4 linked regions of the Homo sapiens genome follow. The gene in region 4 interacts genetically with the main gene of each other region. Each region holds a gene or a part of one and is shown on either strand. Other genes may lie near its edges.

Region 1 (3,500 bases), on a different chromosome or scaffold from region 4:
CTCCCACTGAATGACTTGCCAGACCTTCATGGTCTGTTCTCAGTCTTCAGTTTTGGTTGCATACATCCTTTGATACTATTAAGGACTCACTTCAAGTTTTCTCCTTTGTCAACATTGCATTTTCTCATGGCTTGATGGTTTCTATACTATTGGCTTTGTTATCCCTACTCCTTTACCCTATATCTCTTCTTTCTCTTTGATTTATAACTCCTTGCATTCTTGTTTCTGGCAACTTGAACCTGTCTTGAATTTATTTCTAAGTATGTTTCTCACATCTATAGCTCCAGCCTCATGTAGAATTGCCTGCCACGCAGTCTTTACCTTGCTTTTTTTTTTTTTTTTTAAACAGAATCTTCCTCTGTGGCCCAGGCTGGAGTCCAATGGTGCAATCACGGCTCACTGTAACCTCCAGACTTCTGGGCTCAAGCGATATTCCTGCCTCAGCCTCCCAAGTAGCTAGGACTACAGGCATACACCACCACACCCAGCTAATTTTTTTTAAAAAAGTGTTTTTGTAGAGACAGGGTCTCATTATGTTGCCCAGGCTTGTCTCAGTCTCCTGGCTTCAGGTGATCCTCTGCCTCGGCCTCATGAGGTGCTGGGATTACAGGCATGAGCCACCATGCATGGTCTCCATTCTCTTTGTTTAAACTCCTCTTTTCACTCTTGATTTTGGAGCTACCTCTCTGGCTGATACTTCTGTCTCTTTGAGAAGCACTAGTTCTTCTGGTTAGTCCTTAAATGTTGGTGTTCTCCAGAGTACTTTCTCCTAGGCTGGTCCCATCTACTCCCTTCATTTGGCACCTACATGTCAGTGACTCTCAAATGCATTTCTCTCCTCTAGACCTCTCCTGAGCTCTAATCTCATACCTAATCCTGCCTACTCTCGACAACTCCTACTACTGATTCTGTTTTCCTAGAATGGAACTATTTGTCTTTCCCACCCACCACCTACCTGGACATGCAGTCCACAAATCTGTGAATTAATATAAATCCTACCATGACCCTGATATGCACCATAATGCTAGAAGGAACTTTCTCAGACTTAATTGCCCTACTTAATATCCTTTGATAGTTCTCTATCATTTTCAGGATAAAATCTATAAATCTTTTGCATAGCACATAGGATCATTCATGATCCTCCCTCTGTTTCTTTTTACTGCCTACCTTGAACTATATTCCAAACAAACAACTTAGCCATCCTTGAATATGCACAAGTAGCTACTGCCTGGCTTTTTCACCTGTACCTCTCCTCAACCCCTCGCTTTGTCGGCAAATTTTAAAATGTTCTATAAGAGACCTCAGAGTTCAGATATGACTGCTTCTGGTAAGCCTCCCTTGACCTCTGAGACTGTGTTAGACTCCCACCTTACCAATGTCTGTTGTCTTTATTGATTTTTTTATAGTTCTCTCTCATCAGACTATGAACTAACATGATAGGGACTGTGTCTTATTTCTTTGCAAAACCCCTGCACCTAGCAAAGCATTAGACACATTAGGTACTTTGTTGTTGCTTAATGAATGAAGGACATTCTTATTCTAATTTTGTGTAACATTTCCTGGAATTCCAGATGGTCAAAGTACATTCCTCTTTATCTCTTTAACTCTGCTTTCCCCGCTAGCTTTCCTATTGGTGACAACTAGATTCCCAGGCTTGAAATCAGTGGCAGTTTTGACTCATTTGTCTTTTTTAAATTTTTTTTTTAATCATTTAGACATTGGTCTCTTCAATTCTTTCTTCAAAATGCCTCCTGCAGTATTCATTGAATGCTCTACCTTAAGCTAGATCATGATCTCTTACATGAACACCACAGATAGATACTATTTGTGAATTCATTATACTGAAAAATAAGATTTTATTCACTAACTTCTGGATTTGTGGTCTTTTAGGATATATTGCAGCTCACTTCTCACACTGGCCCCTAATGTGAGTCATCTCTTCTCATCCATTTACTTTGTCGCTGCATGTCTATCTAAATGCTTGAATCCAGCCATGCAGTACTGTGTGGCTTCCTGAATTATTGTCCTAATGCAAAGCCGTTGTTTATGTTCTTACTTCTCCTTTACACCTATCCAAACCCTGCCCTTCCTTTAGAGCCCTGTTTAGGTTCCAGATCTTTTCTAAGACTTTGCTCAAGCCCAAAATTGCCATTTTATTTCCCTGAACTTGTCTTAATGTTAATATTCAGTTCCCATTCATTGTGACACTTATCCACTATATTGTGTTCTTACTTGGCTTTGTTAACATAAATGTGGCTGGGCGTGGTGGCTCATGCCTGTAATTCCAGCATTTTGGGATGCTGAGGTTGGCAGATTACTTGAGGGGCAGGAGTTTGAGACCAGCCTGGCCAACATGGTAAAACTCCATCTCTACTAAAAAAATACAAAAATTAGCCAGGCGTGGTAGCACATGCCTGTAGTCCCAGCTACTCAGGAGGCTGAGGTGGGAGAATCGCTTGAACCTGGAAGTCACAGGTTGCAGTGAGCTGAGATTAAGAAAAAAGAAAAAAAACATAATGTGAACATAGAGTGAGGATTTTTTTGAGGACAGGAATGTGCTTCCTTTTGTATCCTCAGTGCCTGAGATAGTTACCCTTCCTACTTTATTCCTCTCAATGCCTGAGAGAGTTCTTCGCACACAATGGGACTTGGTGAATACTTGGGGAATTCCTGTAGTCATCTTTGAGGCTCTGTAGCCAGAGCATTCATTCTTATAGGACTTTGCTGAGGGACATCCTGAGGATAGTTTGTGGCTGAGCAGATTAGCTCAAAAGTTAATATTGGGGCAGTTCTGCTGCCTTGTAAATAAATAGAATAAAGTTGCAACTGTTTCGAGGCACTTAGGAGATTTTTACTTAATGTCATGGGTGTTATGTAATGTCAAGGTGAATCTTTAATCACTCAGGTATAAAGTTGATCAGATTTTCACTTTACATTAATGCCTTAAAAGATTAGTGGAAGTCAGAATTTTCATTATCTGGTGGGCTTTTGTAGATTCCTCACTTAATTCTTTTTTTTCTTTTTTTCTTTTTTTTCAATCTTTAGGCTTTAATGACTGATGAAACAATATCCAATGTGCCAATCCTTATCTTGGGTAACAAAATTGACAGAACAGATGCAATCAGTGAAGAAAAACTCCGTGAGATATTTGGGCTTTATGGACAGACCACAGGAAAGGTAAGAGAAAAATATTTGGGTTACATATAAAGGACATTAACAGTTTTTAAAACATGATGTTTCGCTATCTAGATTACCCTTTTCTTTTAAAGGCTTAAACAGGCTTAGGATTAGTTTTACTGTGAGTATTTTGTAAGCTCACTAGAGGCAGGAGTGTGTTCTTTTTAACGTTTTAAATGGGATTCATTCATCAGGTATTTGAGGAAGAAGGAAATGGTAGAAAAGGCAGATTTACTCTTCTAAGAGTTTATGATTATCTTTCAAATTTGATTCTGAGAAATTGCTTTTGAAATAGCCCTTTTTAGCCAGAAAATAATTTTTTT
Region 2 (2,876 bases), on a different chromosome or scaffold from region 4:
GAGACAGGGTTTCACCATGTTGGTCAGGCTGGTCTCGAACTCCTGAGCTCGTAATCCGCCCGTCTCGGCCCCACAAAGTGCTGGGATTACAGGCGTGAGCCACCGTACCCAGTCCCAACAGTTTTTTAAAACCCAGAACTATAATGCAATAATGTTAGCATTTGTTTTGGGAGTTTGAGCCTAAATGGTTGAAGTGCAGTAAATTGTTCTTAAAATACGTTTTATGAAAGTATTTGGAGTCATCTTCCTTACATTTTTTTCTCTAGGATGAAGACAACACCTAGCCAGGCATGGTGGCTCATGCCAGTAATGCCAGCACTTTGGGAGAATGAGTTAGGATAATTGCTTGAGTCCAGGAATTTGAGACCAGCCTGGGCAATGTAGCGAGACTCTGTCTCTACAAAAAAGAAAAAATTAGCCGGGTGTGGTGGCATGTGCCTGTAGTCCCAGCTACTCAGGAGGCTCAGGTGGAAGGATTGCTTGAGGTGGGAGGTTGAGGCTGCAGCGAGCCATGATCATGCCACTGTACTCAGCCTGGATGACAGAATGAGACGCTGCTTGAGAGGGGAAAAAAAAGACACCTGCTTGGGATGATTAAAGTTCTGTCTTGACTGGTAGTTATTTGAATTAGGTCCCTCCAGTGCTTTTAATCATGGTAGAATGTGCTAGCAAGTGAGTTTGTCTTACATGGAAGAGTTCTGTGTTCAAGGGCTTTCGGCCAGTGGCATTCCTAAACACAGTGTTAAAGGCGGTAGGGAATGTGAAAAGTATGACATAGTTCCTGCTCTCAACAGCTTGTAATTTTAGTATTATTATCGTAAGCTCAATTGTAGGTACTACTTCTTTTCTGGACTTTCAGGTGCTTATTACCGTGCAATTTAGTGGTATGAGTTGAGGACTAATGTTTCTATATCACATCCTGATAATCTCCACAGTTATGAAAACTAAACTATTTCCCCTCCCTCCTACACTTTTCCCCAACTTTATTTTAATGGAATTGTTTGGATTTCTTGATTGTTTTGTAATAGTGGGACACAGCAGGCCAGGAAAGATTTCGAACAATCACCTCCAGTTATTACAGAGGAGCCCATGGCATCATAGTTGTGTATGATGTGACAGATCAGGTAAGTTCCAAGAGGAGATTGTGTTACAGTGACCAAGTAGGAAGCCATTATTTGATTAATGTCAGATTCATTTACTACTTCATATATAAGCCATCAGTATTAATTTTATGGCAGAAAACTTTGTCCACTCTCAAATATAAATGTGAATCACTTAAAAGACATTTGTTTTCCTGTAATAAATAAAAGATTAGTAATTAGTTTTACGTTTGCTTTCAAGGGATTCTGGTTGTATTTATTGTCAACTAAATAACTTTGATCAAATAGCCAAGACTCTAACATATAGGCAAGAGTTTGTAGGGAATCGTGAGTTGCTTGGCTTATACTGTGTTCTTGGTGTTAAGTATTAACAGGAATATGGCCTGGTAATTAGAACTTGTCCATCAGAATTGCCAAAAGTGGGATTCGGGGGTCTCTGCCTATGGAGGATGTGGTTCAGAAATAAAGAATTTGAATAGGATAAGCTGTAGGAGGATCTTAGTATGAGAATGAGTATCTGAAGATTAGCTGTGAGAGAGGGCAGAGCGATGGAGGGAACAATGTGGGACAGTGTGAAGCATGTGATCCAGGGGCCATAACTTTTTTTGTTACTATTTTTTTAAATCAGAAACTTAGATTTCAGTGTCCTTTCTATCAAAGAAAAGGACAAAAGATAAACGTTCAAAATTGGAATTTATTTTTCTTTTGGCAAATGTTAAATCTCACCTCTAATGAGAAATCATAGCTAATTAGGAGATAACTTACATGTAAGCATTTAGATTCAGTGCCATTAGAAGTGCTGGGTGGGTGATATCTGCAGGAGAAAAAAATGATGCTAGTTTAAAAAATCTCTACTATTACCGTGAAATATTTTTAAATGAAAACTTTCGTCCTCTAAATATGACTGTGGAAAAGAAAATGAGTATATTTAATAACATCTTTTGACATCTCTAGTAGTAACAGTAGGTCATCTTATTCATAAACCAAAATTTTACCAAATTTCAGGCCAGGCGCAGTGGCTCACGCCTGTAATCCCAGAACTTTGGGAGGCCGAGGCGGGCGGATCACCTGAGGTCAGGAGTTAGAGACTAGCCTCGCCAACATGGCAAAATCCCATCTCTAGTAAAAATACAAAAATTAGCCAGGCGTGGGGGCCCGTGCCTGTAATCCTAGCCACTTGGGAGGCTGAGACAGGAGAATCGCTTGAACCCAGCGGGCAGAGGTTGCAGTGAGCCGAGATCGCGCCATTGCACTCCAGCCTGGATGACAGAACAAGACTTTGTCTCAAAAAAAAAAAAAAAAAATTAATCAAATTTCAAAACCAGGTTTTGTAGTACATTTAAATTGCATATTCCAAAGCAGTTGGGTTTGCCTGCGTTGCAGTTTAATATTAAGCTATACTTCCCTTTCAAATAAGGTATTTTCATCGTTAAGCCTGTAAATTCTAGTTTGTCATTGTTTAGATATTTATAGTCATTTTAATATATCTGTTTACGGCCAGCTGCAATGGCTAACACCTGTAAACTCAGCACTTTTTGAGGCCAAGGTGGGCCGATTGAGCTCAGGAGTTCGAGACCAGCCTGGGCAACATAGTGAAACTCCATCTATACAAAAAATCCAAAAAAAAAAAGACAGGTGTGGTGGCATGTGCCTGTAGTCCCAGCTATCCCGGAGGCGGAGGCGGGAGGATGGCTTGAGCTTGGGAGGTCGAGGGTGCAGTGAGCTGTGATTGTGCCACTGCACTCCGGCCTAGGTGACAGAGCAAGACCCTGTCTC
Region 3 (3,500 bases), on a different chromosome or scaffold from region 4:
TGGAGTCTGCAATTCAAGAGAGGATTAGAATGACCTAGATATTCTCCAAGGTTTCTCTGTATGTGAAGGTTATTACTCCATTAATTCAGGAGGATCTAAAGATTTTAGACCTAGAGACTAAATATGCCAAATCAGTCTGAGGTCTCACATTGCTACAGGATGGACGGCTCTTCATGCACTACAGATTTCAAATGGGGTCTTCTCATACTCATTCAGCTACTGCTCTAGGGTTACATGAAAGAAATCAAGTCTAATCCTTTTCCCTAACAAGCTCAAGGCTGGAACAGACAAAAAGGTAAGTAAACAACTGCTACAGAATGGGACAGCTGCTACATCAGAGAGTAAAAGTTGAGTGCTGTGAGAACACAGGAAAGAACAACTCAATCTGCTGGGGGAGTCTGACGAGGCTTTACAACGGTGATGTTTGGGTGAGGTCTTAAAGGATAAATAGGATCCTTTTTTTGGTTGTTTTTGAGACAGAGTGTCACTCCATCGCCCAGGCTGGAGTGTAATAGCATGGTATCAGCTCACTACAACCTCTGCCTCCCGAGTTCAAGCAATTCTCATCCCTCAGCCTCCCAAGTTATTGGGACTACAGGCGCACACCACCACACCTGACTAATAAGGCTGAATAGGATTCTAAGTGAAAGGACATTCCAGAAAGAAGGAACTACAAATGTGCAAGCCTGTGGTTTGCTTCACAACAAGCTGAATGTAGCCAGAGCACTGGGCGTGTGATGAACTGTGATGCTGGATATACAGGAAGGCTCCAGAGGGTAGGGAATCTTGATTGCTGAGCCCACTATTCTGGATTTCATCATGTGGTAGGGAAGCAAGAAAGACTGTAAATCCAAGGAGTTATCGCTGTCAGATCTGTACTTTAGAAAGATCATGCAGGTAGCTGTGTGAACAACTTGAAGGGTAGAGAAACTAGAGACAGGAACAAGAAGTAAGAGTATATTATAAAGGTTTAAGTAAAAGAAAATAAGCACCTGGAAAATAGGAGTACAAAAGGTAAAATTCAAAAGACTTTTCTGAGTTGGAAGAAATAGAACTTGGTCAAGTTGTAGCTAGCATGGGAGATAAAAGAGAAATCAAGAATGAAACCAAGGTTTTTTAGCTAACTTGGTAAGTAGTGATGCCATTAATTGACTCAGGAGAAGGGTTAGGAGGAAAATGTTCAGAATGCGGAGAATAATAAATAAAAGCAATAAATTTGGCTTTGGATTAGCTGCATGTGAACCACCTGTATTAATTCCCAAACACAGGCCAGGTGCAGTGGCTCACGCCTGTAATCCCAGCACACTGGGAGGCCAAGGCGGCCGGATCACTTGAGCTCAGGAATTTGAGACCAGCCTGGGCAACATGGTGAAACCCTGTCTCTACATAAAATACAAAACTTAGCTGGGCATGGTGGCATACTTCTGTAGTCCTAGCTACTTGGGAGGCTGAAGCAGGAGGATCACTTGAGCCCAGGAAGCAGAGGTTGCAGTAAGTTGAAATTGCACCATTGCACTCCAGCCAGGGTAACAGAGCAAGACCCTGTCTCAAAAACAAACAAACAAACAAAAAGCACAAGCACTATCTAAAAGACAATGATTTTCCAAGTATGATTCCCCAGACAGCAGCGCAGCATCACCAGGCAACTTGTCAGAAATGCAAATTCTCTAGTCTTACTCCCAAGCCACTAAAATCAGAGACTCTGTGGGTAAGGTCCAGCAATCACTGCTTTTACAAGCTTTCCGAGAGATTTAGCAGGGTCACAATTAAAAGCAGTAAGAAATAGAAACAAAAATCACAGGTGGAGGTGCTAAGTCTGAGGGTGGAATCGGGACCCCTCTTTCTCTGGGACAGACAAGAAGTTAATATAAAGGTACTAGGACATTTTTATGTGGTGAGGGGAGGAAGCTGAGGGAGTTTGTGCCTAGTGGCCTCTACTCTGTTTTTGAAACAGGATCTGCTACTGACAGCATCAGGCATGCAGTGGAAACCCTGAGGAGATCATTCATGTTCTCGGCTAAAATTTTCTCTCTTTGATTGAACACAGTCACTGAAAGCAATGTGTAATTTCTAATTCTCTGAGTTCACTACAAATGACAGCAAAGGAGTCACTCAACAAATATTGGCTGACTGGATGAAAAAAAAAAAACAAACAACTAGCTAGAGGAGTTGGCAGAATTCCATTTGACTTTCTTCTGTTGAAGCAGTTTTAGAATTCTAGAATGCTCTGGCAAAGAATTAACATTATTCATGGCATTTTATTAGTTCCTATGCTCACTAGCCATCCCATCATTTATTTATTTATTTATTTATTTTTTTTTGAGACAGAGTCTCACTCTGTCTCCCAAGCTGGAGTGCAGTGGCATGATCTCAGCTCACTGCAACCTCCGATACCTGGGTTCAAGCAATTCTCCTGCCTCAGTCTCCCAAGTAGCTGGGATAACAAATGCGTACCACCATGCCCGGCTAACTTTTTTAATATTTTTAGTAGAGAGGGGGTTTCACCATGTTGGTCAGGCTGGTCTCGAACTCCTGACCTCAGATGATCCTCCTGCCTCACCCTCCCAAAGTGCTAGGATTACAGGCGTGAGCCACTGCGCCCGGCCCATCGTTTAATTTTTAACATCATTATATTTCCGGATAATACCAAATGCTAACCTAATTTTTAAATATAAGTTAAATTTCTACAATGCAATGACTATGTATACAAGTCAACAGATTTCTACTACTGTGTTTTATCACTGAGCTAGATGCCATGCTAAATATATATTAAAAGAATGAGGGAAATAATGCTTGATGAGTGCCATTTCCAAGCCCTGCAGTGGGTACGTCAAATTTATTAGCTCATTTAATCTTCACCAGGAAATATGCCTATCTCCATTCTTCCACTCCAAGGAGCTTATTGTCTACATTTGAGAACTAAAACTAACACAACCCAAAGAAAATAATCAGAAGACAAACACAAAATGAAGAAACTACTGAAAGCTGTTCATTAAAAGCTGACTGAGAAGAAGAGAGGAAAACATCCTTTTCCTTAATATTAAACTGACTTGCTGATAGCTCAAAGCAGAAGTGAAAAAATGTATTTAGACGGTGACAGAACTATGTATCCAGTCACGTCACTGTTCAACCGCCCCTAGTTAAGTCCTTTTACCGCTCCGCCAGCTCCCAGTCCTCCTGAATCTGCTTCTGCCTGGCTTTGTGGTACTCTTCCCTCCAGCACTTGGAGCAGAAACCCTGCCAGGCAGGGTTGCCGTAGTAACCACATCCTTTCTTGCACAGGAGATCCGATTGATCCACATGAATTCCTCGGCGTTCAGACTTAAGGCTCATCTTCTTCCTGCTAACCACTGAACAAACAAGAAAGTGCTGTTGAAAATGAATTATCATTCTACTAAATAAAATCTTACCAATTATGAACAAAAAGTGAGTGATTCCATTATCTTCAAGCTGTTAAGAGAGGGATGGAGGGAATGAAGGAGGGAGGGAGAAAGAGGAGG
Region 4 (4,016 bases):
ACCACCACGCCCGGCTAATTTTCTTTTGTATTTTTAGTAGAGACGGGGTTTCACTATATATGTTGGCTAGGCTGGTCTCGATCTCCTGACCTAAATTGATCCTCGGCCTCCCAAAGTGTTGGGATTATAGGCGTGCGCCACCTCACCCGGCCTTGTTCCTTGTATTTATTTAATTCTGTGATGATGAATAAACCAAACGATCAGGCTGTCAATGTGCTGTGAGATTAAGGAGAAAAGCAGTAGGCAGCACGTACCCGGTTTTACAAAACCCTGCGGGTCACCTGTTTACTACCGTCAGCCTAGACCGGTTTTTCCACCTCCTTCTGCTGACATTGGAGGACGGGTATCATTCTTTTTGGGGGGTCGTCGTGTGCACTGCAGGGTGCTGAGCGGCATGTCTGGTCTGGACCCACTCGATGCCAGCAGCACCCCGCACTCAAGTTGTGACAACCAAAACCGTGTTTTCAGACATTGCCAAGTTATCCCCTAGGGGGCAAAGTCACCCAGAAGAAGAACCACTGATGTATGCAATTAACAGATGCAACTAAAACAGTATTTGGCTATTAATAGTAATAGCACTTGGGGGGGGGGTCAATAATATCTTTTCATAGTCATTGAATTTAGTTAATTGTTTTGATTTGATTCCAGTTCAGCCCCGAACTGGGTGACCTTGGCCAAGTGACTCAGCCTCTCGGACCCTCGGGATCCTCTTCTGTGAAATGCGGACAGGGGAAGGAGCCTCGCGCGGGACGCTCACGTGCCGTTCCCGCTCCGTCCGCCCGCCTGGGGTGCGGGCGGGTACACTCCCACTCCCCGCAGCGCCCCACGCGGCTCCACCGCTTCCGAGTGAAGAGTTAAAGAGGAAGCGGCAGCCGCGCCTGCGCCCACAGTGCCTAGCCCGGAGCGCCGGTCTCGCAAGCGCGCACGCGCACGCAAGCCCGCACGCGCGCGCACGCACGCACGTGGCTCGGCCCGCGCGCATCCTCCCCTTGCAGGGGCGGGGCCAGCGCAGGGACTCCATTTCCCAGCGTGCCCCGCGGCAACGCCAGGAGCCTCCGAGGAGAAAGGAAAACGCGCGACGGCCCCGACTGCGGCGGCGCGAAATCCGCCTCAGGGACGCACGCACAGACGGAGTACCCCTGGACCCGCCCCCGGAGACCCCGTGCGGGAGCGCGCCCGGGCGTGCGCAGGGGCGGCGGCGCGGCGGCGCGGGGACGCGCGGTGACCGTTGGCGCCGAGGGGAGGAGGCAGCCGCCGCCGCCGCCGCCGCCGCCGCCGCCGCCGCCGCCGCCGTTGCGCAGATCCGGGCCGCGGCTGTGGGGAGGGCGACGGAGCGGGTGACCTTCCGGAGGCGGGAGCGAGCGAGGAGGCCCGGGAGCGCCGAGCGTCGCCGCCGCCGCCGCCATGAACAACTCGGGCGCCGACGAGATCGGGTGAGGACGAGCGGCGCGGGCCTGCGTCTCCGCCCCGAGCCCGGCCCGCCGCTCCCCGCCGCCCGGCCTCAGACGCCGCCCCCCGGGGCCGCCCCGTCAAGGTCACGCCGGCCGGGGGCGGACTCGGGACCCGGACTCGCCGCGGCTTCGCGCCGGGGGCCCTGGACGGGTGCCCGGGGTCTGGGGGGGTCCTGGCGCCCCCGCCGCCGCTTCCCGGCTTCCCGTCCTGGGGGATCCTGAAGGAGAGCCTGAGGGGTCCGGGGGGCCCCGCCGCCGCCTCCAGACTTCCTGGTCGGGGGAACCCCGAACGGCAACCTGGGGGGGTGTCCTGGGGCGCCCGTGCCGCCGCTTCCCGACTGCGCGTCCTGAGGGACCCCGAATGGGAGCCAGAGGGGTTCAGGGGCCCCCGCCGCCGCTTCCTGGTTGTGGCGGCCCCGAACGGGAACTTGGGGGGGTCTGGAGCGTCCCCGTTGCCGCCTGTAGGGCTTCCTGGCCTGGGGGACCCCGAATGAGAACCTGAGGGAGTCTGCGGGGAGTCCAGGGCGCCGTCGCCGCCGCCTCCCGGCTTCCTGGCCAGGGGGACCCCAAACTGTGGCGTGGGGGGTGGTCCGGGGCGCCCCCAGCGCGCGCCCAAACTTGGCGGGCGGCGCACGTGGCGAGCCGAGGCGAGGGTTCCGGTTCTGCCACCGCCCAACCTATCCCACTCGGGGCTCCGGGCTCCCCGCTCCCATCCCACCCCCCCAAAGTGGTAAGGTCGGGAGGGGTTCGCAAACCCAGGGCCCAGGGGGCTCGGGTCAGCCGGGGCCTGCTGTGTTTACGTTGCCTCGGCGCCTCCCCGCCGGGGGTGGGCTTGAGCTGCGGAAGGGAGAGTCAGCGCTTCCGAGGCGGCGACGGGCCCGCGGATCTTTGCTGCGCCGAGGCGTCCCCTCCTATAGGAGCCTGACCTGCTCCGGACCCCGCGGGGCCGGGAAACCTCATTTCGCTGTGCCCCAGGGCTCGGCGCCATTCTTTGGTAGGAGCGGCTCCTGCCGCAGCGACGTCGTTTTAGAGTTGCATTCTTCCGGCAAAACAGTCTGGGTTGGGTTTCCTAGTGGTCTGGTGTAAATTTCTCGGTGCCCTTAGCTTTGAGCAGCGCCCTGTGTTCTCAGCGCTGGGCTTGGCTAGTGCGGGAGCGGTTGCTGCTAGAGGGTTGCCTTGGCAGGCGCCTCTCGCACCAGCTACAGGTCACACTTGTGGATGGGAAATGCCTTTTGTGGGCTCTCCCCCTCCCCAGACAAAACAAAAGAGCACCTTCCGTTGGAGAACCAGGATGAAAGCACTTAGCCCCTGCCTAGCCCGTGCTGTGAGTCCTCTCCAGGCACTTTGACTTGGCAGGGTCCGTGTGCCTGTGTGAGGGACATTGCAGGGATGGGCCTGAGCAGGGAGTCCACCGGCCATGGGGGATGGAGCCATCGACTTTGGGGTGAGGCAGGGAAAGGGCTCCCAGATGGGGTACCTGGATTAGGTCCATTCAAGCCGCGGGTGAACGTGGGCCCGCTCCACCCAAGCCGTGGCTGTGAGGAGGCTGGAGAGAGGTGAGGGCTCCTGTCCCCTCCCTGCATGGACACCCTTGGGAAGTGGGGCAGCTGGGGTCCCAGCCTGGGTCTGGAGGGGTCCCACCCACAGCACAAATAGGCTCGCAGGCCACCCGGACGCCACGGGCTGCGTGGAGGAGAACTGGAGTGCATGGACCCTGCTCTCCTCCCCGGCTGCCAGGAGTGTCCACTGCTTTCTAAGTCAGACTCCTTGGGCAAGAAGTGTTGCCACAGCCGCCCGTCGCATGGGAGACCGGCTTCCATTCTATGCGGAGTCCACGGTCTGCTCTGATCTTGCTGTGTGGAGTTGTTGTGTGCGTGAAATGCTTGTGACCCTGCGAAGCGCCCTCCTGGCAAGTCCCCTGCAGGTGCGGTGGGTGCCATGCAGGAGGGTGCTGAGCTTGGATGGAAGCAGGCCCTCTCTGCGGCAGATGGCGGCTCTCAGGACGCCATGGGTCTGCGGTGTCCCTTACCCACTGGGGGGGCTCGGCAGCCTGAGGAGCTCCCTCTTCCTGATGCAGAGCCCTCACTGCTCACTGCCATGGAGGAGGCAGGAGATCCCGCCGGACCCCGCTTGGAGGGCTGGGCCTGGAGCATGCATGGGTGCGGGGTCAACGCCTCAGGAGACTTGGAGCTTGGGAGCCCCCTGTTCTGGGACACTTGTGGCCGTCCAGCTGCTGCCCTGGGAATCCACACCTGGAAGGTGGGTTAGGGAGCCATCCTTGGGGGAAGCTCTGCTTTTGAGTCTGAGAAGTCGTCCCAAGTTTTGAGGGTCCCTGTGCTGGCTTAGAAGTCCATGTAAAGCTTGATGGGGGATGAAAGTCAGCTGAGGCCTGCCGGTGATAACGGATGCCTTACACACACCGACTTCCAGTCAGCTTGAGGGGGGCTTCATGCAGGAGGAAGCGCATACGTGTGGTGGGGTGTGGGGAGTCCCTCTCTGGATCCTGGTGGGTTTGGCACGCGGACCCTACATGGTGGATGTGATGGACAGTGTCCTCCTTTGGGA

The links.
Region 1: changes in DAZAP1 (region 4) and SAR1A together harm fitness less than expected from each alone (positive genetic interaction), as found in Homo sapiens cells (one large-scale study listed by BioGRID).
Region 2: changes in DAZAP1 (region 4) and RAB1A together harm fitness more than expected from each alone (negative genetic interaction), as found in Homo sapiens cells (one large-scale study listed by BioGRID).
Region 3: changes in DAZAP1 (region 4) and RABGEF1 together harm fitness more than expected from each alone (negative genetic interaction), as found in Homo sapiens cells (one large-scale study listed by BioGRID).

What each region holds. Positions count from the first base shown.
Region 1 is NC_000010.11:70,153,515-70,157,014, reverse strand, and holds part of SAR1A (small COPII coat GTPase SAR1A), read left to right. Parts: intron 1-3,045; coding exon 3,046-3,177; intron 3,178-3,500. UniProt on the Homo sapiens protein: Small GTPase that cycles between an active GTP-bound and an inactive GDP-bound state and mainly functions in vesicle-mediated endoplasmic reticulum (ER) to Golgi transport.
Region 2 is NC_000002.12:65,089,231-65,092,106, reverse strand, and holds part of RAB1A (ras-related protein Rab-1A), read left to right. Parts: intron 1-1,028; coding exon 1,029-1,124; intron 1,125-2,876. UniProt on the Homo sapiens protein: The small GTPases Rab are key regulators of intracellular membrane trafficking, from the formation of transport vesicles to their fusion with membranes.
Region 3 is NC_000007.14:66,771,733-66,775,232, reverse strand, and holds part of RABGEF1 (rab5 GDP/GTP exchange factor), read right to left. Parts: intron 3,351-3,500; coding exon of another isoform or gene 3,334-3,350; coding exon 3,155-3,333; intron 1,543-3,154; coding exon of another isoform or gene 1,406-1,542; intron 7-1,405; coding exon 1-6. UniProt on the Homo sapiens protein: Rab effector protein acting as linker between gamma-adaptin, RAB4A or RAB5A. Involved in endocytic membrane fusion and membrane trafficking of recycling endosomes. Stimulates nucleotide exchange on RAB5A. Can act as a ubiquitin ligase.
Region 4 is NC_000019.10:1,406,370-1,410,385, forward strand, and holds the start of DAZAP1 (DAZ-associated protein 1), read left to right. Parts: upstream 1-1,216; 5' UTR 1,217-1,404; coding exon 1,405-1,433; intron 1,434-1,515; exon of another isoform or gene 1,516-3,252; coding exon of another isoform or gene 3,253-3,710; intron 3,711-4,016. UniProt on the Homo sapiens protein: RNA-binding protein, which may be required during spermatogenesis.